Regions from separate parts of the Homo sapiens genome. Here all the other regions are reported to be linked to region 5. Evidence: microRNA targets listed by miRTarBase, many of them from high-throughput screens and not tested one by one. Region 5 holds a microRNA gene; each other region holds the end of a gene's coding sequence.
The links. Region 5 holds the annotated microRNA hsa-miR-148b-3p (UCAGUGCAUCACAGAACUUUGU, at 1,589-1,610, opposite strand). A microRNA usually pairs through its seed, bases 2 to 8, with sites in the 3' UTR of a target mRNA and lowers its output. Matches are read on the target gene's strand: a 7mer-m8 pairs with bases 2 to 8, a 7mer-A1 pairs with bases 2 to 7 and ends in A, and an 8mer does both.

Region 1 (4,067 bases), not on the chromosome of region 5:
CTTTTCAAACCAAACAGCCAGCAACTAAGATAGCTGCAAATATTTTAGTTCAAAAACTTCTCTTAACTGGGAGTCTTAGACGAAGAACCAAATTTGGAAACATATTTCACGAGAAAACTGTGTAATCTGAAAAGTATCCAAGTATAGCATAACACCTGTAGGCCAGGTAGCCAGAGAAAAAGATAGAACTATACAATAAAGCCATACCAACGGCTACGATGAAAACAAGAGATTACTGAGCTCACCACCTGCCTTCTTTTGATTCTAAGGAAATTAGAGCCTGATTAGCCAATGAATCAAGACAGAGCTTTACAAGGACCTCTGTGGAAGATCTAGGGTTGTTGGGAAATCCCATTCACCCCTTATCTTTTACAGATAGAGGCCTTGAGTGAAGGAAGCCACTCAGGGTCTCTGTTTCTCTGCTCACTTTCCTCCTTGTACATTTTCCAAACAAGGAATCAGGTTGGGTCAGATTCCAATGTAATCCACTGGACCATTTTTGCTGGTGGGCAGAGTCATTATGCTTTATAAGACTGCATTCACATATATAGCACTCTCTTCTGCTTCCTCTGGCCTCCACGGAGCTGATACAGTAAACTGACAATCCAGGTTTCTCTCCCCAACATAGCAGCCATGTCTAGACCACTTGTTTGAAATGGTATTTCCTTCTTGGGATTTTTACATTTTCAATGGGAGTTTAATTTCTCTGTAGAAATTTAACAATAAGAGGGGTTTCATATTCAGACTTGAGGCATTTTTGTACTTCCAAGATGCTATTATTTGGACTAAGCTATCATCTGGTATTCACTGTATGGGTCTGTTTGGTAGGCTAGGTTCAACAGTGTAGCTATACATACTTTAAGATGAGAAGTAGAATAGGTGAATTTTTCACTAAATATATAGTGTGGTCTTTAAGTTAAGTCCTGAATAAAACTATTTCACAAGTTTCTAAGGATGACATCAGAAGCATCCATTGAAGGCCTTGGGGAGCTGAATTTCACATCACTTTGGTCCAAGAAAGACTCATAACAGCCATGATATGGAACAGGGAAATGACTCCATGAAAAGGCTACAAGAACTTACCTGCAGATTTTCTCCCCTAAGGTAGAGAATCACATATTAGCTCAGCTACTGAACCCTTTGGATTACCAGAGAAAGAATGAGAAGTAGAGATTGTTAAATGTCCATGCTGGGGTTCAAAGACCGTAACTGTGCCCACTCCCACCTGCCATCTTCTCTGCTCCCTAGGAAAAGAAAGGCTGAATTGACTGATCAGAGTCCAGACCCTCATTAGGCTGTTTTCTACTGCACAGAACTTGGGGTTATCAGTAAAACTCCCTGGTATCATTTTCTCCAGCGCAGATGACTAACTATAGCTATTCATATCATTGGAGTGGAAAATTCCAAGGTTAGATTTTGGGCTGAAGAGCTCTGGAGTTTGCAGCCAAAGCACCAGCTAGTGAAGTATTACTTTGCTCACCTTAGCCTCCCTTTCTTACAGAAAAGGCAGCTAAGCCAAGGACAGATTTGGGTATCCCTGGGTCCCCTGATATAATATCGTCCCAACCTTGTCTCTTAATAGAACCCCAATTTTACCCCAACCCCCAACAGGGTACAAGAGTCTAAGTGCTAATAGTGGAAACAGAAAAAATAATCCAACCAGAAACATGGCAGTAAGAGATATAAAATCTGGACAATGAATGGAGACTTAGAAGAGTCCAACAGACAGTGGGTTGTTGTTCTAGAAGATCTATTCCTCTGTTGGAGAACTTCTATGAAAAGATTGAGGATGTGAAGAATGCTGACTAACACTCAGGGGCTACCCAGAATTTGCTAGTAGTGCACTAAAAAGAGTCTGATAGGAAATGCAAAAGATCTTGGAAGGGGGAAGAGACAACTCTTTAGTGGTCCAGACCTTGTTTTGGTAACTAACATCATTATCCTGCATTCTCAGCTTTACTTATTGGTTGTGTATTTCACACTAGATTTTGATCCATTTTCCCTGCTGTCTTACAACCTGACCCAGATTCTGATTAATTCCACACTAAAAGTTTCATGTAATAGACCCAGTTTCGTTCCTGAACTGACAGTCTCTGTGACAGAGGCAGTAATGTAAGACGTTCCATTTATTCCCCTACATCTGCCAGCCCTCTTTCAGGTATATAGGACCACATGACTACTTTGGTGGCAATGAAATATAAGTGGATGTGACATGTGTCACTTCTAGGCCGAGGCAGTAAAGAGCCTAAGTGCCACATGTTCCAGATGTTGCAGCCACAAAATAGCAGAGCCTTAGTCATCCTGGAACCTTGAGTTACCGTGTGGAGCAGATCCCTTCCCATTCCCACATCCCTCTGACCTGCATGAGATATGTAGTGTGAGCAAGAAAAAAAAACTCTTGGTGTGTAAAACCTCTGACACTTTGAGATTGTTACCTGAGCATAACTGTATTCCTGACAAACACAGCCCCCCTTCTTCTGCATACATAGTGCTTATTTCATACTCTAAACTTAATTGTTAATAATTCTACATGTTACACCCAGGCCCTTCTGAACTGGCTCTATGGGACAGAAGATCACACACAAGTCAGCAAGCAAAGCTTTAACTTTGAACCAAATACACAGTAGTAAGCAATACAATTCAGTAAACACAACTACTTTCTACTGCACAAAAAAACAGGAAATAATTAAATTTCTTATAGACATTTCTTTATTATATTTTCCCACTTGAATAGAGAATAATTTAAATGTAATGCATACTGACAGCAAGCACAGTATCAAATATTAGCTTTTTTAATATTTTTCTTTCCTCACCCTTTATTCCTTTAGGAAAAAAATATTTAGATGACCTCAAAGAAACAATTATTATGCTAATCACAGTATGCAGTAACACAAACAAGCCCAGACTCAATAGAAAAGAAAGCAACAAAGAAGTGAAAAAGTCTTTCTCCTCAAAACATTTTAATTCGTTTTTCCACAGCCATATAAATTTAAAGTATGAAACAACAATAATACAACTATAGAATCTAGGTTCTCTTTCAAAGCAGCGGCATATAAAACATAGAAAAGCTAAAACCTCAGCACAAGCTTCAAAAGAACAAGGACTGAGAGGATTTTGATGAAGACATGAAATGCACAAAATACAGTACACAAAAATACTAGAATGCCATAAAATATAAAGCTACACATTTCAGGTAGAAAGCATTGTAAAATATATAAAATATGCAAGAAATCAAAACCAAAGAGATTTTTCTTAGAGTACCATGAATACACTGGAACTGGCAATTAGCATTTGAAGATGGGAACAAGAAAATAGCAGTTTCCCATTTAAAACTTTATTTCTAGGCTTTAGGATTTCACCTTCTTGACATCCTTCTTTCCAGAGCTCTCAGTAGCTGACTCTGCTTTTCTTTTCTGTGACTAAAATGGAAACAGATTTAATGTTCTGCTCCAATATGCACATTTTAAATGGCCCAACAATGTTAAATCTAGGATGTAAATGCATTAAAAAAAAATTTTAACATGAATATTCACTTAAATGTTATATTCACAGTTAATGTTCTATATAGCCCAACAAACTATATAACCCAATGTAAAATAACCTTCAAAGATGTTTCTTTTTATGAAAAGACATAAAATACCCATCAAAAATAGTCATCAAGTATCTACTTACACATGGTATTATAAATGTACTCTTATCTTAAAGAACTACTTAATGTTTTCTGGGCAAAATTTTGTTTATGAGTATATATTTTTTAAAAAACTTATGATAGGTTTTAACATACCATATTTCATATCTTCTATGATACACATTTCTTTCACATTTTAGCATCTCTGAAATCAGGATGCAACTTACAACTGATGACAAATTACACCTGGCAGCATTTTCCCTCAGTGGTACATAAAATAATGCTGTGTCTTACAATGGAAGGCATCTTAGATTCGATGAAATATGGCAGTTTACTTAACCACACTCAAATAATACGATCTATTAAAGAATATTTTAAATTACAGCTGTACAAAGCAACCTGACTGGATTAAAATCAAGTTATCCTATCAATTCAACAG
Region 2 (4,067 bases), not on the chromosome of region 5:
TTTATGTCCATTCTTCTCTCAGGTCCACAAAAGGTGGCTCCGATTCCTCCCTTTCTGAGCCAGGGCCAGGTCGGTCCGGCCGCGGCTTCCTGTTCAGAGTCCTCCGAGCAGCTCTTCCCCTTCAGCTTCTCCTGCTCCTCCTCATCGGGCTTGCCTGCCTTGTACCAATGTCAGAGGAAGACTACAGCTGTGCCCTCTCCAACAACTTTGCCCGGTCATTCCACCCCATGCTCAGATACACGAATGGCCCTCCTCCACTCTGAACTAAGCAGATGCCATCTGCAGAAGTGCTGGTAGCATAAGGAGGATCGGGTCATAAGCAATCCCAAACTACCAACAAGAGGACCTTGATCTTGGCGAAAGCCCTCGGTGTGGCAGCTTTAGCCCTCCTCCAGATCACATGTGTGCAAATTATGGCTTCAGAGGTGGAAGATAAACAGTGACGGGGGAACAAACAGACAACAAGAAGGTTTGGAAGAAATCTGGTTTGAGACTCTGAACCTTAGCACTAAGGAGATTGAGTAAGGACCTCCAAAGTTCCCCGGACTCATGAATTCTGGGCCCTTGGCCCATTCTGTGCACAGCCAAGGACTTCAGTAGACCATCTGGGCAGCTTTCCCATGGTGCTGCTCCAACCATCAGATAAATGACCCTCCCAAGCACCATGTCAGTGTCGTACAATCTACCAACCAACCAGTGCTGAAGAGATTTTAGAACCTTGTAACATACAATTTTTAAGAGCTTATATGGCAGCTTCCTTTTTACCTTGTTTTCCTTTGGGGCATGATGTTTTAACCTTTGCTTTAGAAGCACAAGCTGTAAATCTAAAAGGCACTTTTTTTTAGAGGTATAAAGAAAAACTAGATGTAATAAATAAGATCATGGAAGGCTTTATGTGAAAAAAGTTGAATGTTATAGTAAAAAAAAAAAGATATTTATGTATGTACAGTTTGCTAAAGCCAAGTTTTGTTTGTATTGATTTCTTTGCATTTATTATAGATATTATAAAATAGTTTGTCTGTGCTTTTTTTTCCCTAAACAAATAACTCTAAGTTTCATTATTAAGCAGGCACTGATCAGAATGCAACCTAAATGATCATTTTTCTGTGCAATGAATGAAGCTGGAACATTAGTGTATATTAAAGGAAAAGGATGGCAAGAGGCAGCATGGATTTAGACATAGAAGACCCCAGGTGATTCCTTTTTTTCTCTTCCTTCCATAGTCAATCAAATCTCCTGAATTCTTGTTTCCGGAAACCTTTCATCCTCTATTCTCCATTCCTTTTGCACATGGGAGAGGCTTCCTAGGAGCTGATATCTGAGGTCCCTTCTCCATTCCATTGCGAGCAGACAACAGCCACAGAAATCTTCTTAAAGCACACTTCTGTTCAGATTCCTTCTTTGCTGCAAAGCCTTCTATTGTTCATTGTCTACCGGATAAAATACAGTTTTCTTCTATCATTTAAGTCCATATGCAATGAGATTTTATTTTGCTCCTCTGAACTTGCCTACTATAGTGGACTTCATGGAATTATGTGATGCTCGTGGCATTTTAATGTATCATTTAATAATTCTGGGGCACATAAAACTCAGGTCTCTGGCTTCTCTTCTGGTAGACAGCTCTGGTGCCCTAGTCCGGAGCACATATTCCTGCATGGCAGTAATTGCCGGAGCTTGTTGGCTGCTGTCCCTTCCAGAATTGGGGGAGAGAGAGAGAGTATCTCCTCTTTGTACTTGTAAACCTTCAACTTCTCTCAAGGTCTGTGTCACCCTAGCCCCAGAGGTATTTAAGTTTACAAATCCTGCTCTAAATTGAGTATTTAAACCAAACTGAGGCCCTTCACCTTGCCTGAAACTGCCGTCTGTGCTTTCCATAATGCAGGTAGTCTGAGTCCATCTCAACTAGGGTTCCTGGGGTTTGCTAGATTTTCCAAGTCCCGGGCTTGCTTCAGACCTCCTAGTTCAACCTCTGGGATGGGGCCTGGGAGCCGGCATTTTAAAGAGATGCCTGAGGAGACTTTATTCCTCCTAACTGCTGAAAAGCACTGCCCTCTGCTTCCTTAACTTCATTCCTCCTTGCCTGCCCCACAGGACTCAGCTCACAAGCCACCTCCTTCTTGAAAAATTTCCTGATCACTTTCACACTGTATTTAAGACTTCTCTCTACTACTCGGCTTCTTGCCGTCAGATTGTCTGTATCTTATGGCCCATGAACCCATCGTGTTCCACAGGGAACACGATGGATCGCCCCCCGCCCACTGTTATTTTATAGAGAAGACCACCTCGTGGTTAAAGTGTCCCATCTTCCCGCTTCTGGAGAGGCTGTGAGCAGCGGTGGCCATTGGCGTTGAAGGGTGCCCTGCACCCTCATCTGAGATGGAGCACTCTTCAGGCCTCGCTCTTCCCTCACTTTCCTGTCACTCCTCCCGATATCTGGAAGGAGAAGTCCTCCCTCCAGAGCAGTTTTGCCCTTCAGGGGGTATGGAAATCCCACACAATGAAGAGTGTCATCGTGGAAAAGGCAAGCGCAAAGAGACTTCAGAAGCATTTCTTCTCCACATCACTGTCAACTGACTTCCTCCTAGGCATCTCCCGTCACTGAAGAATCAAATGGCAAATGTTGCTGAGAAAAACATTTGGTTTCAATTAAGAAAAATCTTAGCATACATTCCATCTGTGCCTTTCTCAAAACCCTGTGAAACCCCCAAAGGGGTGTAGAACATCCATTTCCATTACATTTTTGAAGATTTAAACAACAGAACCTTCGAAGAAGTAGGGAACCCTGGTGAGTGCAAACATTGAACCCATGAGGTCGTGGCTCTTCCCCAGATGATTGATTGGCCAATTTAGCAAGGGCCACGCCAGACGCAGATGATGGGGAGATGGGTATGGGGCCATGAGCATCCTCACCCGCACCCAGCGGTTGCTCTGGCAACAGAGAGAAAAAGCTTCATGGAAGGGATGTGGGATGGTTTAAAGAATAGTAAGGAGATAAAAGGACACTGATGGCTGCTGAAGAAGCTTCCATTTCTGCAGTGAGGACAGTCAGGAGCCCTGCTGTGGCCTGGAGAGAGGGAATGGTGTCCCAAGTGAGTGCTGGGTGAGGAAGGGCATAAAGAGACCATCCACTGACCAGGAAGGATGGGAAGGGAAGGGTTAATAACATGGTGGTAAGGAGATTTGCACAAGCAAATGGGAAATATTAGAAAAGTGAACAAAGAATCCAATATAGCTAACATGGAAAAATAAGGCATTAGAATCTAAAAGTAGTAACTTAATAAGAAATCCCGGGAGAAATGAAAGGATTTTTTGGGAAATGATGGCTGAGGAGCAGGAATGTCCCTCCTGGAAAATGGACCCACAGTAGCTTCTCTTGTTTTTGTAAGAAGTGAGAAGAGAAGACTTCTGAAGGCCCAGATGGGAAATTCAACATGCCGAGGCCTGAGATTTACTATAAAAATGCAGGTTAGAGTAGATTGATTGATAGCCTACACCCCAGGGCCAAATATTAAGACATTATAGCTACAAAACTTAATTGACAAACCACATAAAAGATCGTAAAGCAAAGAATAGTGGAGAGAGATGATTTATGAAAGCTAATCGTGTCCAGAAAAGCCGGGCCTCCCAGGGCTGGTCTGGGCTGCCTGAAAGCAGCCCAGTGGACAGGTTCCTTGTTCGGTGCAACCAATTCACCAGCACCATCGCCAAACCTTCACAGGGGATTGTGGAGAAATTGAAATATCCTGAGTGTGTACCAGATAGGTCCAGAAGTGCCTGGGGAGAGCAACAGACATTAATCTCTCAAGTAGTTCACTGAATGCCCACTATGTGGCAGGAACTGCTCCAAGCTCCCTCGGGGAGTCCTCTCGGGGAGGACCTCAGAAGTTCTTGTGTTTGTTTGTTTTATTTTTATTTTTTATTTTACTTTAGGTTCTGGGATACATGTACTGAACGTGCAGGTTTGTTACACAGGTATACATGTGCCATGGTGGTTTGCTGCACCTATCAACCCATCATCTAGGTTTTAAGCCCTGCATGCATTAGGTATTTGCCCTAATGCTCTCCCT
Region 3 (4,060 bases), not on the chromosome of region 5:
CAGACAGAAAGACAGAAAGACAGAAAGAAAAGAATTTAGTTAGTAAATGTTGTTTCACTCCTCTGAGAGCCATAAAAAGCTATTCGTAAAAATAATATGAATTCTCAGAAATAGTGTGAGATTTTATACCATATATAGTCCACAGGTTTATTTGGTTAAAAACAAAAAACAAAAGAAATTTAACATAATTTTAAACTATGCTATACATAAAAGTAGTCAAAAGCAAGTGAAATATATAAGGTTGAAGAATTTGAGTGAGTACACATCAAGAGGTCCTATGAATAACGAAACATCAGCCTCTTTCTATCCTCCAGTTTCTCTTTACTCTATTGATACTTTTTCCCAAATTATTTCCCGCAAAGCTTGAGAGGGATAGATGTTTGGGTGTTTTCAGCAAAATTTCAGAGAGAATGAGTTTGGAAAAGCGGGAATGTAGTCAGGGTGGGTGAGATAAATGTTTTATTCTTTTATTTTTCTTCAACTCAAACAATTTTTATTCCCAGTTCTTTCCAAGCTTGAATAATAATTACCAAAAATATTTTTGTTTCAATACTAATTTCTGACAAGAACAGTGAAATAAACTATTAAGTGCCCTCAAACTTGTTTTTTTAAAGGTCCCTAAGACGAGATAACTTGACAATCAGTTCCATGGACATGGTGACCACAGCCAGCTGGAACCTGAAGTCTAAACACCATTCCTGCTCTCCAGCTTCCTTTCCCATTATCCAGAATCAAGTCCAAATAAACAAAAAGGGAGTAACCAAAGAGAGTATGGACCAGAGTGAATAGATCCTAAGTCCCAAATGGCCAGTGTAAAAATGTCCTTATGTCTGATGCTGTCTCTTGCTCTTCAATGATTAATTGAGGGGATGTTACTCATAAAACAGATAATCAAATAGATCTTCTCCAGGATTCCCAAAAAGCTTTTGGCAGTGAGTAAATACAGAGTAAACATGTCAGTTTCTTAATGTAGACACTATGTCTTCAATCCCAAAAATTATAAAACTGAAACCCATGAAGCAAGAATAGATGTGAGAAATCTATGTAAAAAAATAATTAAAGAAATGCATGTGTGTAAAGTAGTAATATGATGATTTTAGGTAGTGCTTTTTATTTTAAAAATAGTCTAGTTAGTAATGTTGTATCCTTGCATGAATATTATTCTTAATTCCTTTTGCATGTTGACTATTTGCAACGAGCTCAAATGCTATCTGATCAAAGTCTATTTTGCATAAAATGTCCAATAATTAAATATTGTTATAAAATAAAACATCAGTCTTTGACTCTCCTTTCTTTGGTAGTTGGAATTCATGTCAGTAACAAGCACACAGGTGCACACACACACACTTCATATTTAGTCCACACTCAATTTAAATATTTATCATGTATTTGCTATTTTTAAAAAATCAAGTTAATGTCTCATTATAGAATGTTGTAAAAAGTTAAATTTTAGAAAAGATAACTGACATCGTCAAAAAATCATTTTTAAGAAAATCAAATAACTTATTTTTTCTATCTGGAAGCTTTTAAAGATTTTTCTTCTAGCCTTGGAGTCCTGAAATGTTCCCAAGATGTATCTAGGTATCAACAAGGAAATCAGCCCTACCATAATTAACAGAACACCAGCTTCAGAATGAACTTAAAAATTATAACTAAGAGTGGATTATTTAATATTTTATTCCTTGAAAAAAATTATATAATTTATATTTTATTCATGTATATTACTTGACATAGTTGACTTCTTTTCTTTTATTTTATTTTATATATATAATTTTTATTATACTTTAAGTTCTAGGGTACATGTGCACAACGTGCAGGTTTGTTACATATGTACACATGTGACTTGTTGGTGTGCTGCACCCATTAACTCATCATTTACATTAGGTATATCTCCTAATGCTGTCCCTCCCCCCTCCCCCCACCACACAACAGGCCCCAGTGTGTGATGTTCCCCTTCCTGTGTCCAAGTGTTCTCATTGTTCAATTCCCACCTATGAGTGAGAACATGCGATGTTTGGTGTTTTGTCCTTGCGATAGTTTGCTGAGAATGATGGTTTCCAGCTTCATCCATGTCCCTACAAAGGACATGAACTCATCCTTTTTTATGGCTGCATAGTATTCCATGGTGTATATATGCCACATTTTCTTAATCCAGTCTATCATTGATGGACATTTGGGTTGGTTCCAAGTCTTTGCTATTGTGAATAGTGGTGCAATAAACATACATGTGCATGTGTCTTTATAGCAGCATGATTTACAATCCTTTGGCATATACCCAGTAATAGGATGGCTGGGTCAAATGGTATTTCTAGTTCTAGATCCCTGAGGAATCGCCACACTGTCTTCCACAATGGTTGAACTAGTTTACAGTCCCACCAACAGTGTAAAAGTGTTCCTATTTCTCCACATCCTCTCTAGCACCTGTTCTTTCCTGACTTTTTAATGATCACCATTCTAACTGGTGTGAGATGGCATCTCATTGTGGTTTTGATTTGCATTTCTCTGATGACCAGTGATGATGAGCATTTTTTCATGGGTCTGTTGGCTGCATAAATGTCTTCTTTTGAGAAGTGTCTGTTCATATCCTTTGCCCACTTGTTGATGGGGTTATTTGTTTTTTTCTTGTAAATTTGTTTAAGTTCTTTGTAGATTCTGGATATTAGCCCTTTGTCAGATGAGTAGATTGCAAAAATTTTCTCCCATTCTGTAGGTTGCCTGTTCATTCTGATGGTAGTTTCTTTTGCTGTGCAGGAGCTCTTTAGTTTAATTAGATCCCATTTGTCAATTTTGTCTTTTGTTGCCATTGCTTTTGGTGTTTTAGACATGAAGTCCTTGCCCATGCCTATGTCCTGAATGGTATTGCCTAGGTATTCTTCTGGGGTTTTTAAGGTTTTAGGTCTAACATTTAAGTCTTTAATCCATCTTGAATTAATTTTTGTGTAAGGTGTAAGGAAGGGATCCAGTTTCAGCTTTCTACATATGGCTAGCCAGTTTTCCCAGCACCATTTATTAAATAGGGAATCCTTTCCCCATTTCTTGCTTTTGTCAGGTTTGTCAAAGATCAGATGGTTGTAGATGTGTGGTATTATTTCTGAGGGCTCTGTTCTGTTCCGTTGGTCTATATCTCTGTTTTGGTACAAGTACCATGCTGTTTTGGTTACTATAGCCTTGTAGTATAGTTTGAAGTCAGGTAGTGTGATGCCTCCAGCTTTGTTCTTTTCGCTTAGGATTGACTTGGCAATGGGGGCTCTTTTTTGGTTCCATATGAACTTCAAAGTGTTTTTTTCGAGTTCTGTGAAGAAAGTCATTGGTAGCTTGATGGGGATGGCATTGAATCTAAAAATTACCTTGGGCAGCATGGGATTTTCACGATATTGATTATTCCTACCCATGAGCATGGAATGTTCTTCCATTTGTTTGTATCCTCTTTTATTTCGTTGAGCAGTGGTTTGTAGTTCTCCTTGAAGAGGTCCTTCACATCCCTTGTAAGTTGGATTCCTAGGTATTTTATTCTCTCTGTAGCAATTGTGAATGGGAGTTCACTCATGATTTGGCTCTCTGTTTGTCTGTTATTGGTGTATAAGAATGCTTTTGATTTTTGCACATTGATTTTGTATCCTGAGACTTTGCTGAAGTTGCTTATCAGCTTAAGGAGATTTTGGGCTGAGACAATGGGGTTTTCTAGATATACAATCATGTCATCTGCAAACAGGGACAATTTGACTTCCTCTTTTCCTAATTGAATACCCTTTATTTCTTTCTCCTGCCTGATTGACCTGGCCAGAACTTCCAACACTATTTTGAATAGGAGTGGTGAGAGAGGGCATCCCTGTCTTGTGCCACTTTTCAGAGGGAATGCTTCCAGTTTTTGTCCATTCAGTATGATATTGGCTGTGGGTATGTCATAAATAGCTCCTATTATTTTGAGATATGTCCCATCAATACCTAATTTATTGAAAGTTTTTAGCATGAAGGGCTGTTGAATTTTGTCAAAGGCCTTTTCTGCATCTAGTGAGATAATCATGTGGTTTTTGTCGTTGGTTCTGTTTATATGCTGGAT
Region 4 (4,067 bases), not on the chromosome of region 5:
ATCTGCAGGTTCGAGTCTCTCACTCTCTCGCACAACAACATGATCGCTCTCAAGCCGGTGCTCCAGGCCTGGTTGGAGGAGGCCGAGGCCGCCTACCGAGAGAAGAACAGCAAGCCAGAGCTCTTCAACGGCAGCGAACGGAAGCGCAAACGCACGTCCATCGCGGCGCCGGAGAAGCGTTCACTCGAGGCCTATTTCGCTATCCAGCCACGTCCTTCATCTGAGAAGATCGCGGCCATCGCTGAGAAACTGGACCTTAAAAAGAACGTGGTGAGAGTCTGGTTCTGCAACCAGAGACAGAAACAGAAACGAATGAAGTATTCGGCTGTCCACTGATTGCGGCAGGGCGCAGCGTCGGGAGCCGGGAGAGCCTAGTGCTCATCCCTCCCGGGTTCGGGGGATGGTTATCGGGAACTCCAAGGCGTTTCCTAGGCAGGTTAGGCTCTCTCCTCCGAAGCCACAGACTTTCCCCCTTTGTCCCGCCTGGTTGCCTCCGGCCTTCTCTCTCTTTCCTTTCTATTCCCACCAAAAAAATTTTGGCGCTGGGAAAATATTGCAGAAGGGCGGGCCTGAGTGTACTTGTGCTGTCCGTGGTGCTGAAATTTGCCCTCGCGCAGGGGCCGCACGACTTCAGAGCAGGAGCCCCAAAGCAGAGGACAGTCAATTGGCCCAACCGCCCGAAGCTAGGGTGAAAATGCCACTTTGCTAAGCGCGATTAGGCAAAGGGTGAAGGGATAAAAAGGAAGTGATCAATAATAACACAAAGTCTAGGATATCTAAGGGGGACACAAACATGCACTGGAGATTTATTAGAGTATATAAAATACATGTATGTTTCCAAAGGATAGCCTTATACTCCCTTCCTTGCCTAAATTCTATTCACCTTATCCTTTGGTTTGGCGTAAATTCTCATAAGGTAGCATGAAGATTAGGTTCAGGGAAAGTATGCAGGGAGTTGCGGGCTCCAAGTTGCCATTTTTTCGTGGTAAGTAGGGCTCCAAAACAGGTGGGCCCAGTCTGGCGACTGAAAATTCTGGGATCGCTTGGCTGTTTGTAATCAGCTGCCAGCACCAGCTCTGGCCATCTTTCACTACCTACTGGTGTTTGAGGGGTAATTACTGCTTGCTGGAGAGCGGGAGTTTGTAGTATTCATAACCGTTGAGGACTCTCTGACCCCAGCTCGCTGCTCTTGCCAGATTGCCAGCTCAGCGTGCAGTCGGCTGCTGGAAAACGACTGTAACTTCTCTGCATTATATGCAAGTCCTTTCAACACGTCTAACCTCCTTGCACTTTTGTTATTACTGTTGTTGTTAACATCGTTCATTACTATTATTTATTTAATTCTGCTTCTTTCCATTCCCTTTATGTGGGTGTCTTTCGGTGGAAGTTCACTTATAGTTTTGTGAGGGAAGAGGAGTGGGACCATGGGCCTGAACCCTTCTCACCCTGCCCCTCTAGCCCAAATTTTATTTTATTTTTTCGTTGTTTCATGTAGTTTGTGTGTTGCTGTGTGACCTTTGGTTTCATTCTCTGAATAGATACAAATAAAATATTAAGTTTTCTTTTCCCTTTACCCCTTGAATTAACTTCTAAAATAAATGCTTTATTTTTCAACCCGAATCAAAGTGGTTTTATTTTTTCTCAGAGGCTAAGGGGTACTAGCTTTGAAAAGGATTTAAAAAGGAGAACCCCAAAGGGTTGGGCTGTCAGTTTCTGCTGCCCAGCCCCCAGCCATCCCTTCTCCCCACTCCTCTTCCATGGCAGACTCACTTGGAGCTCCTCGTGGGAGACCCTGCGGCTTGTGTCTGAACTTGAGGTTTCAAGGCACTTCCTTCCATGCTTCCCTGCCTGCCATCATGAGACTCTGCTCAATTTGACTTAGCTAGTAAACTTTGAAGCCGGACTAATAGAAATTCGAGCCTCCAATGCCTCTGCTCACTGGCAGAACCATCCTGAGGCTAATTTCTTAATTTCTCTAAGCCTTCTCCAACAAGATTGCTTGTCTGCAGAATGAAGGGACCAACGCTTATTTCACAAGGTTATTGTCAGGACTAGGTGAGATTGTTTATTTAAGACGTCAACTAGTGCTTGGGTTTTGTAGGCAACAAATTATTTTAAAAGATTCAAAGGGCTTGAAAGGAGGTGAAATAATAGAGGCAAAGAGGGAGAAAAGTGTTCGCTGGGACACTCTAGTGGGACCCACTCAGAGTTCCAAATTCATCTGAAATTCTCATCCAGGTTGTTATTCACTCTGGGGTCCACCTCGGCTTCTTTGTGGGGGTACTGCTATAACTGCTGCAAAGCGCCTAGCATAGTGCCCTGTACATAGTAGGTGCTCCATAGACGCCAGCTCCCTGTTCTCTTTACGCTCCCTCTTTTTATTTGCGAGCTGTAGAAACGCCTTCCTGATTTAAAATTTAATGCTCCAAGTCCAGGAGTCATCTGCACATTTCCCTGCTTCGTCCTCAAAGAGTTGCGGGTCATCAAACCACGGGGCCGAAATTCGGAGCAGAGTGGGTTTGCCCTCCGCGCAGTGCGACACCCCCTACCGCATAAGCTAACTTGCGGATCTCCCCCAGCTCCCTGGGCCTCAGCCCTTTACCCCCGCCTTGCACAACAGCCCCAGCGATTCCTCCACCTCCCTCTCCATCGGGTGTCCTTTAATAATAAATGCCCTTATGCCATTACATTATATTGTGGGTTTTGAAAATTTAAAATACGGCTGATGCAATATTAATTGCCTATAGTGGTATAAAACACAGGGCAGGAGCCCAGCCGGGCTGCAGAGGAGACAACCGTGAGCGTCCCGCGCCGAAGCGAAGCGCTCCAGAAGGACGCGCTTTTGCGGGCTGCAAGGTTTCCTGCAGGTAAGAAGAGCCTTCGCATGTTCGGGCTCTGGAGAGAACCGGAAATCTGCCTCCATCCTCTTTTCGAAAAGTTCTCTGCCGTTATTTATTTAGTCTTTTTTTTTCTTTTAATTGACAACTGCAAAAGTTTGGGAGACTTTTACGGAGAGGATGAGAGGAGCTGCCTCCTGAGCGCAAGGTCTGCTCCAAGACGGTCCAGTAGCACTAGGTCCAGTCTCCGAGCCATGCCTCTGAGCCTAGTCTTCTTCAGGCGCCTGAGACGGTGATGCGCAGGAGTATTTTCACCAGTTCCTACGTGCAGGCCGGAGCTGCAGCCCGGTCAGCGAAGCGCTCCACCCTTTCCCTCCTCCTGAGTGCGCCGGAACGGCGCCGTCGCCTCACTCTTCGGCTTGCTTCAGGAAGCAACTGGAGATGTGGTTTCCCCAGGATTGTGTAGTCGCCTTTGCCACTCGTCTGGCGGAGGCACAGACCTCTCGGGGGAGGGGAGGTGGTACTAGCAGGTCTGGGGTTTACACAAGGCTAGTATGCATCCGAACCGTGTGACCTTGGACAAGTCATATCGCCTCTCTAAGCCTCTGCTGCCAGCTGTAAAACTTCCCCAAATTTATTTTGAAGAGTAATTGAGGGTGTTTCCTAAGATCACCTGGAGCAGGTTTTCATTTTCCTAATTCTGTCAGCTTGCAACACGTACGGTCCAAGACTCAGCTGAGAGTTTCTTTAACTTGTACCAAGAGAAAGTGAAGTCAGTATTTGGGGGTGTTTGCATGGAAACCTGCATCGGGCCTCCGGAGGGTGGGACTTTGAGAACTACCTGGCTGGAACAGGGGCTTCATCTAGAATGAGCTAGGCATACACATTCCAGCATGACTAAAGCCCTGGTAGGCAGAACTTGGTGGCAGGAGTCCTGGGCTCCTGAACGGTGTTATCTCTGGCCAGCGACTTCCTCTCTGTGTGCCTAAGTAGTCTCAGTTTTGTTCACTACTTCATGTCCAGCACTCTGCTCAAGGTCTGGCCTAGAGTGGCAGACACTAGATGTCTGTTGAATGAATGAATTAGGTTTTTGTTTTGTAAAATGAAAGCACCCCTTCCAGCCGAATCCCCTCTGGATTCAAGGGACTGTAGGGAGGAACAGAGCCATCAGGGATAGGCAAGTCTCCCTGGGAATGGGGATCGGGGCAAGGCGGTGGTCTGCATCACAGG
Region 5 (4,067 bases):
CAACCCTGTTTGCGGGGGCAGAGGAGGGCAGTTCAGAATGGAAGTAAAAGGAACCCAGTCTTTTGACAACAAGGTGATGAGGAACATAAGCTTTCCCTACTTGAATTCTTGAGGACTGCAATTTTTGTTTTGTTCGCTGGTTTGTCCCATTTGTCCAGAACAATGCCTGACACATACTAAACTCTCAATATTTGGTGAATAATTCAGAGAATAAAGGAAGTTTGAGAATAAAGTTAAAATACCTTGACGCAGTATGCATCTAAGGGACTACTTATAATTAGACCTCCACATATAAGTGGATTTTCTGATGTGGCCACTTTGGGTGATATTACTACCAACTTTATCCCTCCTCTGATAAACACTCCTTAGAGATGTCCATCCTGTATATATAACACTCTGGAATAAACAAGGCATGAGTAACTCCTCTCTCAAACTAAAGAACTTTGTTGCCTAGTGGAGGGAAGTCCTCTAGAGTCTAGTCTTAAAAGGTCACAAGTAGAAGCAGCTCTCCTAACTCCTAATTCCTCACAGAAAGATCTTCCTGTAAAGCAGGCTCAGTTCTATAACAACTTGGGTCCTCAATTCCAAAAGGGAGACAACAATGGGAATGAGTTTTCTTAATGGAAGAAAAGAAGTCCAAAAGGAACAAAATTTAGACGAAATCATTTTTTCCCACAACCTTTTCCTGGAAATCTTTGGCTCTGTTCCTCTATCCACATTCACAGCAACTTTAGAGAGCTGCCCATTAGTTTAAGCTGGGCATTAACCTGGCATAGGAAACTGGTTCTTGCAGCCATAGAGTTTGGCATCCCTAGAACCCAAAGAAAAGCAAAGCCCTAATGGCCCCCAGCCAACTGGGAGAGTCAGACAATGTCCTTTGTGGCCAACAGGGTGTGAGTGCCTACAACAGCCACACCGGCAAAGAGAGAACATATCCCTGGGTTCTGCTCTTGGTTCTTTTCACTGGCTTCCTAGAAGACATTATCAAAGAAACCCCAAAAATAGAAACATTGGATCTTCCTGGGAAGAATAAAAGACAGGCTAAGGAGGACAAGGATAAAGACTAGATTTGACATAGAGCTTACTGGAGCTCTCAAAAGGGAAAGAAGGCATTACAGAAAAGGCTGGTCATTTCAAACTTCCAAAGGAGGAAGCATACTAAATAAAGCTGAGAATTTAGGCAGGCGCTTAAATGCCGCTTCAATTCTCCATTCTGCTACAGCTGGAGCCAGCAGCTTCTTTACTTCTCCTGCCACCTCCTGACTGCAGCTGGTTCCACTTCAGCCTGGGGCTTTTACCTCTCAGGAGTGGGGAGGGCTATGCCATAAAACTAGCCAGTTTAAAGGCCCCAGAAGTCATTACTGATAATGTAATTTCATTTTAAGTTTTTGCAAAGGGCAAGTTTATAAATAACTCCCAGCTACTGAGAAATGGGCTTCCAGGACAATGGACTAGGCTTGACCTTGTAACACATTAAATGCTGACTGTTGAGAAAGACCTTATCAGCTTAGGGCCACACTGAAAGAATTTAAAAGGTCTATTCTTCCCTCCCACTCCCAAAATGGGTAGCTGCTAGAAAGCTTTCGAGACAAAGTTCTGTGATGCACTGACTTTCAGAGAGCCACAGCCTGAGTGTATAACAGAACTTCACCTCAAATGCTAATCGTGCTTGGAAATGATGTATAGGCAGATTGTTTTGTGGGAGATTGGGTGACTTAGACAGATTTTCATGTATTTATGTTTTTATTATCAAGAAAACAAGAATGCTGTCCTCAAGACAGGTGAAACACCACAGAACAAGCAACTAGGCTGCTGCAAATGAATCTTTGATCTCAGGGGCTTCTTTTTTTTTTTTTTTTTTTTTTTTTGCGACAGTCTCTCTCTGTCACCCAGGCTGGAGTGCAGTGGAGCAAACTCCGCTCACTACAACCTCCACCTCCCGGATTCAAGTGATTCTTGTGCCTCAGCCTCCCGGGTAGCTGGGACTACAGGCACACACCCCCATGCCCAGCTAATTTTTGTATTTTTAGTAGAGACGGGGTTTCACCAAATTGGCCAGGCTGGTCTCGAACTCCTGACCTCATGATCTGCCTGCCTCGGCCTCCCAAAGTGCTGGGATTACAGGCGTGAGCCACCGTGCCCGGCCTCAATCAGGGGCTTCTAAAGCCTGGTGAAAAGCATCAACATCTCCAAGAACTCTCTCCCCTAGCGCATAGAGGACTAGAGGGAAAGAGTCATTCCTAGTGCTGCCCCCTGTGGGCCTTCTCGGTGACCTGCAGCTTCCACAGGATTACAGTCATAAGCAAAAATATTTTTCAAAGGCAGCTCTGGATAAGAGCTTTTTTTTTTTTGAGACGGAGTCTCGCTCTGTCGCCCAGGCTGGAGTGCAGTGGCACGATCTCAGCTCACTGCAAGCTCCGCCTCCTGGTTCAAGCTCTCCTGCTTCAGCCTCCCGAGTAGCTGGGACTACACGCACCTGCCACCATGCCCGGCTAATTTTTTGTATTTTTAGTAGGGATGGGGTTTCACTGTAGCCAGGATGGTCTCAATCTCCTGACCTCGTGATCCGCCCGCCTCGGCCTCCCAAAGTGCTGGGATTACAGGCGTGAGCCACCGCACCCGGCAAAAGCTCTCTATTTGTGTGTCTTGTAGGACAAACTAGTAGAGATGGGCCCTGAAAAATAAGTGAATTAAGTCTGTTCACAATGTATATAGTAAGAGAACTCTTTGGGGTAAGATCTTAGTAAGCCACCAGAAGACTGGGAGAATATGTTTGGGGAAGGTAGAGAGGATACTTGGAAACTATAATGAATTATTTGATTCATTTAGGGGAAAAAACCAAGAAGCCTCTATGGAGGGAATTACAGGATGCCATCTACAGAGCTGAAAGAGCACAAATAAGAATATGGAGGCCAGGCGCAGTGGCTCATGCCTGTAATCCTAGCACTTTTGGAAGCTGAGGCAGGAGATCACTAGAGCCAGGAGTTCAAGACCAACCTGGGCAACACAGTGAGACCCTGTCTCTGCAAGAACTTAAAAAAAACAAAAATTAGCCAGGCATGGTGGCATGCACCTGTAGTCTCAGCTACTCAGGAAGCTGAGGCAGGAGGATCGCTTGAGCTTGGGAGTTCAAGGCTGTAGTGAGCTACAATTGCGCTACTGCACTCCAGCCTACACAAAAGAGTGAGACCGCCTCAAAAAAAAAAAGAAGCTGACTGAGATCACTAAAAAGTTCTTCATTGTCTACTTAAAAATAAATCCTTCCAGCCTGGCCAACATGGTGAAACCCTGTCTCTACCAAAATTACAAAACTTAGCCAGGCATGGTAGCAGACGCCTGTAATCCCAGCTACTCAGGAGGCTGAGGCAGGAGAATCGCTTATACCTGGGAGGCAGAGGTTGCGGTGAGCTGAGATCGCACCACTGCACTCCAGCCTGGGCGACAGAGCAAGACTTCAGATCAAAAAAAAAAAAAACATTCCCTAAGGCCATACCAAAAGGGCCTGATGTGGCATTACCCTGATGTGGCAATGGGTCTTGGTGAATTAAAAACTGTAACAAGATTCTCTTGTCTCAATCCTGTTTATAAAGTAAAACTAAGAAGGTAAAAACTAGAAGGAGAAATTCCTAGATACCACTCCCAGCTCCAAATGGCTAAGTAGGTATACTTCCTGACTCTGTGCCAACACTTTTTTTTTTTTTTTTTTGACAGAGTTTCACTTTGTTTCACTTTGTTGTCCAGGCTGGGGTGCAGTGGCACAATCTTGGCTCACTGCAACCTCCGCCTCCTGGGTTCCAGCAATTCTCGTGTCTCAGCCTCCTCAGTAGCTGGGATTACAGGTGACTGCCACCATGCCCAGCTGATTTTTTTTATTTTAGTAGAGATGGAGTTTCACCATCTTGCCCAGGCTGGTCCTGAACTCCTGAACTCAGGCAATCTGCCTGTCTCGGCCTCCCAACATGCTAATATTACAGGTGTGAGCCACTGCACCTGGCCTCTGTGCCAACTTTTATTTATTTTTTTATTTTTTTGAGACGGAGTCTCACCCTGTCGCCCAGGCTGAAGTG
Region 6 (4,067 bases), not on the chromosome of region 5:
ACCTAGCCCGTCCTGCAAGATGAAGCTGCTTCTTGGGAATCTTTTAGCTCAGGATGCTGTGTTCCATATTCACGACGGCATTTCCATGCTCGTGAGGGCAACCAGTAGTAAGTAGCATGGCACTTGGGAAAGAATTCCAGCCGGTTACATTTAGGGTCCTGGAAAAAAAATTCCAAACCAAGAATACTTTGTGGCTAGTGCCATTTAGCATTTTCGTCTAGTAGAGATTTCTTTTTTCTTTTTCTTCTGTGTGCCCTGGCTTCTCAGGAACTGTTCTCTGTGCCGGACGAGCACCAATGGCTCCGCTCCTCCTTGCTGCCTCCCTGAGTCGCTCTGTCCCTGGGACTGCTAAGGGCACGGGGCCTGTAGTGACGGTTCCGGCCGCCAGGGAAGATGCTGGGTACGTTTTGTCCTTTCCAGTCTGGTTCCTGCCTCCCAAACCCAACTCCCGTGTTCTCTCTGGGAGCCCTGCAAGAACAGGGCTTTAGAACGTTCTCCTTTTTTGGCCGGGCACGGTGGTGGCTCACGCCTGTAATCCCAACACTTTGGGAGGCCAAGGCAGGCGGATCACGAGGTCAGGAGATCAAGACCATACTGGTCAACATGGTGAAACACCATCTCTACTAAAATACAAAAAATTAGCCAGGCGTGGTGGTGTGTGCCTGTAGTCCCAGCTACTTGGGAGGCTGAGGCAGGAGAATTGCTTGAACCTGGGAGGCAGGGGCTGCAGTGAGCTGGGATGGTGCCACTGCACTCCAGCCTGGCGACAGAGCAAGACGCCAGACTCCATTTCAAAAATAAAATAAAGTTCTCCTTTTTCTTCAGCCTTCCTGGTCTGCCTGGGATTAATGAACTTGGCCACTCTTGGGACTCCTCCCCTTGCTAGCCTGCAGGTTCACCTCTCCCAAGAGTCCAGGGTCTGTATCGCCCCTTTCCTTCTCCCCTTAACTGATTTATCTTGCTTTGGGATAATACCACCCCCTCCCTCCCCACGACCAGACAAGCCATGTGTGCCCCGCCCTCTCCTAAGCAATTTACAGGAATGAACTCCTGACTCTCCAAACAACTGTATGGGACAGGCACCCCCCCATCTTCCAGAGAACAGCATGCAGGCTCAGAGAGGTGAAGTGACTTGCCCATGGTCACACTGCTGGGGAGGTGGAGAAGCCAGGATGTAGGCTGGCTTAACTGTGCTGCTATTCTGCCTCATGGCATTTAGTTTGAAGAGAAGGGGCTTCAGGACAATACTAACCTAGGTGCACAGGTTGTCCTTCCCGTTGCTAAGGAGCCCTAGGCAAGTCAGTTAATCTCAGAGTCTGTTTCATCGGCAAAATGGGCCTGAATTTCTTCCTGATTCACTGGGTAGTTTGTACAGATGAAATGTGATCACAGCTGCCAATAAACCTGGTCCCACAGTGACGTGGACAGCAGCCTCCTGCAGCACCACTGCTCCGCCCGGGCTATGAGAAGATGGGCACTGGCAGGGAGGGTGGCAGGCAGTCCCAACAGCTGGGGCTCCAGGCTGATAGCAGTGGCTGAGAGGGAGTCATCCCAGATCTCAGGCTATCCCACCCATCTCATCCCAGAGGGCACCATATGTCTCTCCACCACATAGTCACCTGTCTCCCTGACTGTGTTCCACTGTCACTAGAACAAGAGGATCTGGGCCTGCCAAGCTCCAAAGACAGCTCATCGTGAGGAGGAAAAGTGACTTTACAAAAGCAATGTGTGGTGGCTGTTAAACTGCTGCATCTTCTATCCGCCTTCACACCATTCTCACGCACATACACATGCGCACACACATGCCTACATGCACACACATAGGCATGGGCGCACACACAGGCATGCGCACACATGCGTACATGCACGCACACAGGCACGCACACACACAGGCATGCATACACACATGCGCGCACACACACATGCGCGCACACACACACACTTGCTGCAGGGGATCCCACCACCAAAGTCCATCCTCCACCCGCCTCAAGGGAGCCAAAGTCTGTTCAGAAAACAAACTCCAACACGTCTAAAAGAAAATAACAAAAAAACCAAACTTTACTTGCATTTAGCCATTAATAAATAATTTACAGTATGTACACGCGGTGACACTCCACACAGGTCGCAGACACGTGGACGCAGTGAGGGGTCCCCACTTCCAAGCAGAACGTGAGCAAACACAACCAAAATAAAGTGCTTCACTTTTTACTTCCAACATAGGGACCAACTAAAACCAGCAGGGAGAGGGAGGGGCCGGGCCCCGAGCGCCCTCCCACCCGCCCACACACGGTTCTGGCAGAGGGAGCAGGACCTCTTGGAGGGAGGGGGAGACACACGTTCTGCAGCCTCCTGGCCAGTGTATGAGAGGTCCCTGGGGAACAGCAGAGGGGCTGCCGATGGGTGGGTAGGGTGTGGAGCTGTAGGGCTGCTGGCAGGATCACCCTCCAGGGCCTGGCTGCACTTTTGGGAGTGAAGCCTGGCTTTGTGCTGTGGGCACAGCAGCACAGGTGGGACTGTTCTGGGCCCCTGGATGAGCACCCTGGGCTGAAATGAGGCGGGAGCCAGCGGCAAGTCTCTCCTGGCTGTGTGGCCACAGGGCTTAAGGGAAGAGATTAGAGGTTGAAGACCCTGCCAGGGATGCTCAGAGCTGAGAGTCCTAAGACCCTGCTCCTCTCCCCAGACTCCAGACGTGGATGGACCGGGCTGGGGGCTCTTGGGGTTGTGAGGAGGAAGCAGAGGATCAGGGCAGGCCAGCTGGCCCCATCCACTGGGTCTCCTGCCACACCCTGGGGCCCAGGCACCCCTGCCCAGGAGCTCTTGCATCTGCAGGAGAGAGAGGAACAGAAGTCAAGGATCTCTTCTCTGTTTAGACATTTAGAACCAAGCACTTCGACTTTCTAAGCACAGGGTGGAAGGGGCAGGGGCCCAGGCCAGAGACGGGCAGCTGAGCAGGTGCCTGAAAACCGGGACCTGCACTGGTACCCACAGCAGCCAGGTGAACATGGGCAGGGAGGCCACAGGCCAGAAGGCACCAGGCGGGCACGACCTACTGGCCAAAAGGTTCCAGCAGTCTGCTAAGGTGCCAAGCAGCGCCCCGGGGTTGCCCTGCCTGGGGCCAAGCCCCAAGGATGCCTCCCTGTGTGGCTGGGGTGTCCCCGCTGGCCTAGGGGGATCGAGTGTGCTCTCGTGTAAGAGTGTGTGCGTGCGTGTGGCGGGCACAGGGGGCCCCACGGATCGGCGAGCAGCAGTCGGCCGGGCCTTTCAGTGCATTGCGAGGGGGAAGGAGCTGACTCTGACGGTTCCCAGTGTGTCTCTGGTGGGGGTGGGGGGCTTCAGCCTGAGGGGATGTTTCACACATTCACACTGCAGGGGCGGGGCGAGGGGAGCTGCTCTCCCTCTCACACAGCTCTACTGTCAAACATCATGGCACCAGTCACCACAACCTTGTCACGTGCACTAGAAGGGGAGGGGTCCGTGCCTGAGCCCTTGGCAGCAGGCGGTCCCTGGCGTTCTGCGGGGCCATGGTGGACACGCCAGGAGATCTGCACCCCGTGGGCGGTCCCAGCCCACACATGGGGAAGCCGAGAGGACGGAGCCCGCGCCTCCCTCCACATCTACGCGTCTAGCAGAACACAGGGAGCAGGGCCAGGAGCGGGACGAGGGCGCCCAGGAGGGGCCGGGGGGCCAGGGGCAGCCCCGCAGCCGCCCTGCCTGGCAGGTCCCGAGTCCTCTCATACAGGTGCAGTTTGTCTTTGTTGGAGTGGAGCATCTTGACATCCTCCAACGCGTAGTAGGCGGCCAGTGTGAAGTTCACGTCGCCCGTGGTGAGGAGGTCGAAGACGCAGGCCTGGTAGTACAGGTCCTCCACCGGCAGCTTCTCCTTGCACTTGGCCACGGCTGTCTCGTATGGGAAGGTCTCGGGGGCTGTGGGTGCAGGGCTGGCGGCTGCCAGCCTGCGGGCACCGGTGCCCTCAGCATTGGTGTGGAAGGCCTGGAAGTCGATCTGCTGGTTGAGGGGGCAGCCCCGCAGGCAGAGGTAGAGACCCTGGCTGTCCCAGTCCTCCACA
Region 7 (4,064 bases), not on the chromosome of region 5:
CTTCCATAATATCATTTCCATTGCCTTAAATTCTACCATCCCCTTTCCTATCCTGACCTCTCACCGCCTTCTATTGAAATGCCGCCTGCCCTTGACTTATCAAACTGTACTGTCACGGTTTGTTTGCTTGACTAACTCCTTTAGTTTATAATTCTCCAGAATGCAGGAACTGTGCCTAGTAAAATGGTTGGTATATAATAAACACTTGATAATTTATTGATTCAGTTACTGAGCAAATGTAAGTGGGACTTAAGTTTGCTTGATAAATGTTTCCTATTATTGACGTTTACTAAAATCCGGCTTACCTAAGGAATTTTATTTCCAATATATACTGACACTGTTTTCCTTCTCTGACTACATTTATTGGGTACTTATTATATGCAAGACACTATGTGATCTCATTTAATTCTTACAGTAACCCTGTGTTGTAAGTACTATATTTCTACAGGTAAGGAAATAGAGTCTCAGGAAAGGTAGGTGACGTGGCCAAGGTCATAAAGCTGGGAAGTGACAGGACCATGATTTGTGTCCAGGAAGTCTGACGCCAGAGCTTACAGTCTTTTCTACTCACCTCAGAAGTCCTACTTGTCCTTCAGGGCCAAGCATAGACTCGGCTTCCTCAGGAAACTTTCTTGCAGTTATTGTCATCATCTATCTTCTCATCTCACCATTAGGCTGAAGGCCTTGTGAGGCAGGAATCATGTATCTCCTCTTTCTATTATCTCATTGTATGTGGCCAGCATCTTGTAAAGTTGTTTAGAAAGGAATTCCTACCTGTACTGGGCAGATGAGGGGAAGGGGGCTTGGGGATTTCTCTAATCTTACACAGCCACCCTCTGTCAGAGCCAGCGGTAGGCCCTAGGTTATCATCTTTAGTTCCAGGCTCCTTTCCTGGAAGAAAATGCCTTAGAAAATCCCTTTATAAACAATTCAGGAGGTGATAGAGTTCAGAGATTCTTAGAATTGCGAGAAACCACAATGGTTACCTAGATAAATGTCCTCATTTTAAACAGTAGGCCTAGAAAGGAGAGGTGACTTATCCAAGACTGTGGAGCAAGTTAGTAGAAAGTTTGGAGTAATGAAAAAACAGAGAACAAAACTTGCAGTTACCAGATCTGGGATTTAGTATTCACTCTGACACTTAGTTCTTATTGAAAGACCTATAACATAAAGTATAATTATTCAGATTCAAACCAAGTTGACAATGTCTTTTCTGTCATTGTCCTTGGCCTATCTACGTGCAAATAATAGTTTTCTTCTTAGTAGAAACTCCTTTTATTCCACTTGGCACAGGCACTATTTATTGAATTGCTTTAAAGAAGTTTTTTTTCTTGACTTATGTCCTCTTGCAGTCTCCTGGCTACTCCCAGCTGCAGCCTCTCCTCCCCCAGCCATGCTCCCTGCACCCTCCCAGCTCCCCATCCTCTCACCAGCCATTTGCTTTCTTCATGGATGCCAAGTCAGCCAATCAGCATTGCTTGTCTCCTTTCCTGCTGTGCTCCACATACCCAACTAAGGCTATTTCCTGGTTTCCATCCTGAACCAGGCTGAAATTGCTAAAATATTAATGGCTCCCTTTGTGAAAAATAACACCGAAGCATCTTATTATAAATTAAAATTGCCAGAGAGTCAGAAACAATGACATGGAGGAAATAAAGCAAAGCTCTAATATGAAAAAGTGTTTTAGGAGTTAAGGCAGGAGAAGATATCCTTAGCCCTGCCTTCCCCATCACAATGCTGGGATCTTGCCGTGGGAAATACCATCACCACTGGCTGAGAGTCACCTTCTTGACCACCTAGAGGGGGTGTATGGCAAGGTACGCGATCCCTGTGGTTTTGCCTGGCTGGCTCTTCTTCTGGGTCCACTGGGAGAGAGGATGAGGGAAGAGCAGCATGGATCAGAAAAAAAAAAAAAAGGCAATCTGCTGTGGATAAAGAAAAGAGGGACTTCCTGTGGTTAAAAATTCATGTGACATCTTGGGATGAGGAAGGTTGAAGGATGCTGAGAAAAGATTAGGCTGAACTCAAAGGCCAAGAAATGTGATTCCTTCCTTTGTTTAATCTTAAGTAAAGCATTTAGCACTTTATGTCTTAAATATCTGATTCCCCCACCACACTCTGTCATTGTCATCATTTTATTCCTGGGGTCTGCATGGTGCTTGGCACAAACCACAATGCTAACCAGGATTTTCAGAATGAATGGATAAATAATCAGCAAGGGAAAGAGTAGAGAGCAAAAACTGACCCTGAATATTTTCAGCATAGTGAACGTTAATATTTTTATTTCTTTTGTAATGAAGAGTACAAATGGTTGGGAGCAGGACATCACAGGAGGAGGAAAGATAGCGCCATCTCTGCAGAAGAACTCCTGAGCCACACACAGAAGGAAAGTTGATCCCCAGGGCAGCCTTTCCCACCAAAAAAATCAGGCCCAATCCAGGAGAGTTTGCCAGTAGCTCCCCAGGGTTCCAGGGTGTCTGCCAGCCTTCCTAGGAATCGTGGGCAGGCTTCTAGGTGCCAGTGACTCAAACTCCTTTTTCCACTTCCCAGTTCAACCTGGTCACTCTCATCCCCACAAGTTCCCAATCTGAATCCCATTCTCTGACCATTCTCTGCTTCCTTGTTTTTAATCTCATTTGAGAGTGATCCTCACGGGTTCCCCTGGCCCCTGCACTCATTTTCCTTACTGGGTATGCTAACGTTTGTCTTCTAATTCAGGAAATCCTTCCAACCCTGTTTTCAGCTCTGCCTCCAAACCCTTCCATTTCCCCATTTCACCTCCCAGTCTCCTCACTCCTGGAGCAAAGAGCTCTGCACTTGGATTGCTAAGCATGCATGGCTCATGTGGAGCAGGGGAGTGGGAAGATGTCCCTCAGGGCAGAAAGCCTGCTTTTGGTGGGGAACCTACGTATCATTCAAACAGGCTTAGCTGTAGAGAACCTTCACTGCACCTCTCCTCCAGTTCTGCCTCTCCCCTCCACTATGCTGAACTTGCAGTTCATTCTGCAGTAAAAAGCAGTAGCCAGGCTGCAGCTGGTGCTCCAGAAGCCCGGCTGTAAGCATGCGCACTGTATATGTGGTGTGCAAGGAAGCCATCATCAGTCATATAAAGCAGTTGCTATGAAACATGTGAAAAGTGAGAAACATGGTTTAATTGTGGATTTTATTAGAAGTGTGATACTAGTCAGAAAGGCCCAGGAAGTTGGCATTGCAGTTACCAGCTCAGGGAGAAGGAAAGAGAGCAGCAGAAACTTCTATAGGAGATCCAACTGATGTTAACATATGTGGACACCCTCCTGTCCCCGGCCCCTTTCCTTTCACCCAGATTTGGTATGTGGCAAATCTAAACATTTGCAAATTCACAGTCGTATTCAGTCATCCGGCACATTATGAACTTCCACTGGCGATCCCTGTGGGAGGGAGAGTCAGAAAATGAATGTCAGTGAGAAAGGACATGGCAGGAAGAATCGCTGCTGGGGAAACAGCAGCAGAGAACATTTGGAGGATCTGGGAACTGAAGGGACACTTAATCTCACTTTGCTCTTAGAAGACATCTTTATGCAGTTTCCCAAGAACCGACAAATCTGTGAGTTCAGGTCACCCTTGAAGGTGACTAATTAGGTCACTGGCTGTGTGGAGGCCTCTGTTCATCACTGGTGGTCAGCTCACCCCTGCTGCCTCCAGAAAGTACCTCAAGGACCTGTGGGTTAACAGCTTGGAATAAAAGCATTTATTTAACATCATCTCCATTTCATTGTAAAGAATCTTGTTTTAGGCTGGGCTTGGTAGCTAACACCTGCAATCCTAGCATTTTGGGAGGCTGAGGCAGGTGGATTGCTTGAGGCTAGGAGTTTGAGACCAGTCTGGCCAATATGTGGAAACCCTGACTCCACAAAAAAATACAAAAAATTAGCTGGGTGTGGTGGTGCATGCCTGTAGTCCCAGCTACTTGGGAGGCTGAGGTGGGAGGATTGCTGGAGTCCGGGAGGTTGAAGCTGCAGTGAACCGAGATGGTGCCACTGCACTCCAGCCTGGGTGACAGAGTGAAACCCTGTCTCAAAAAA

Region 1: miRTarBase lists SMARCA1 as a target of hsa-miR-148b-3p. The part of its 3' UTR that is shown has no 7-base or 8-base seed match.
Region 2: the mRNA of SYNE1 is a reported target of hsa-miR-148b-3p. The part of its 3' UTR that is shown has no 7-base or 8-base seed match.
Region 3: miRTarBase lists RHAG as a target of hsa-miR-148b-3p. The part of its 3' UTR that is shown has no 7-base or 8-base seed match.
Region 4: the mRNA of POU4F3 is a reported target of hsa-miR-148b-3p. Seed matches in the 3' UTR shown: 7mer-m8 at 795-801.
Region 6: miRTarBase lists RGMA as a target of hsa-miR-148b-3p. Seed matches in the 3' UTR shown: 8mer at 3,262-3,269.
Region 7: miRTarBase lists DPT as a target of hsa-miR-148b-3p. The part of its 3' UTR that is shown has no 7-base or 8-base seed match.

Annotation. Positions count from the first base shown.
Region 1 is chrX:129,443,815-129,447,881 of GRCh38, forward strand. It overlaps SMARCA1 (SNF2 related chromatin remodeling ATPase 1), which reads right to left. Exons shown (of 25, transcript NM_001282874.2): 25 at 2,692-3,419. The coding sequence ends at 3,348. Among named protein-coding and RNA genes, the nearest start is that of SMARCA1, 78 kb to the right of the region's middle.
Region 2 is chr6:152,118,632-152,122,698 of GRCh38, reverse strand. SYNE1 (spectrin repeat containing nuclear envelope protein 1) reads left to right here. Exons shown (of 146, transcript NM_182961.4): 146 at 23-1,012. The coding sequence ends at 263. It also overlaps a transcript of ESR1 not described here. Among named protein-coding and RNA genes, the nearest start is that of SYNE1-AS1, 260 kb to the left of the region's middle.
Region 3 is chr6:49,602,385-49,606,444 of GRCh38, reverse strand. It overlaps RHAG (Rh associated glycoprotein), which reads left to right. Exons shown (of 10, transcript NM_000324.3): 10 at 615-1,270. The coding sequence ends at 632. Among named protein-coding and RNA genes, the nearest start is that of RHAG, 32 kb to the left of the region's middle.
Region 4 is chr5:146,340,109-146,344,175 of GRCh38, forward strand. POU4F3 (POU class 4 homeobox 3) reads left to right here. Exons shown (of 2, transcript NM_002700.3): 2 at 1-1,620. The coding sequence ends at 336. RBM27-POU4F3 (RBM27-POU4F3 readthrough) reads left to right here. Exons shown (of 20, transcript NM_001414499.1): 20 at 1-1,620. Among named protein-coding and RNA genes, the nearest start is that of POU4F3, 3.3 kb to the left of the region's middle. RefSeq lists a silencer at 515-715.
Region 5 is chr12:54,334,821-54,338,887 of GRCh38, reverse strand. MIR148B (microRNA 148b) reads right to left here and starts at 1,672; the gene lies at 1,574-1,672. The region is part of intron 1 of COPZ1 (coat protein complex I subunit zeta 1); the gene reads right to left.
Region 6 is chr15:93,041,376-93,045,442 of GRCh38, forward strand. RGMA (repulsive guidance molecule BMP co-receptor a) reads right to left here. Exons shown (of 4, transcript NM_020211.3): 4 at 1-4,067. The coding sequence ends at 3,623. Among named protein-coding and RNA genes, the nearest start is that of RGMA, 46 kb to the right of the region's middle.
Region 7 is chr1:168,693,206-168,697,269 of GRCh38, forward strand. It overlaps DPT (dermatopontin), which reads right to left. Exons shown (of 4, transcript NM_001937.5): 4 at 2,263-3,410. The coding sequence ends at 3,344. Among named protein-coding and RNA genes, the nearest start is that of DPT, 34 kb to the right of the region's middle.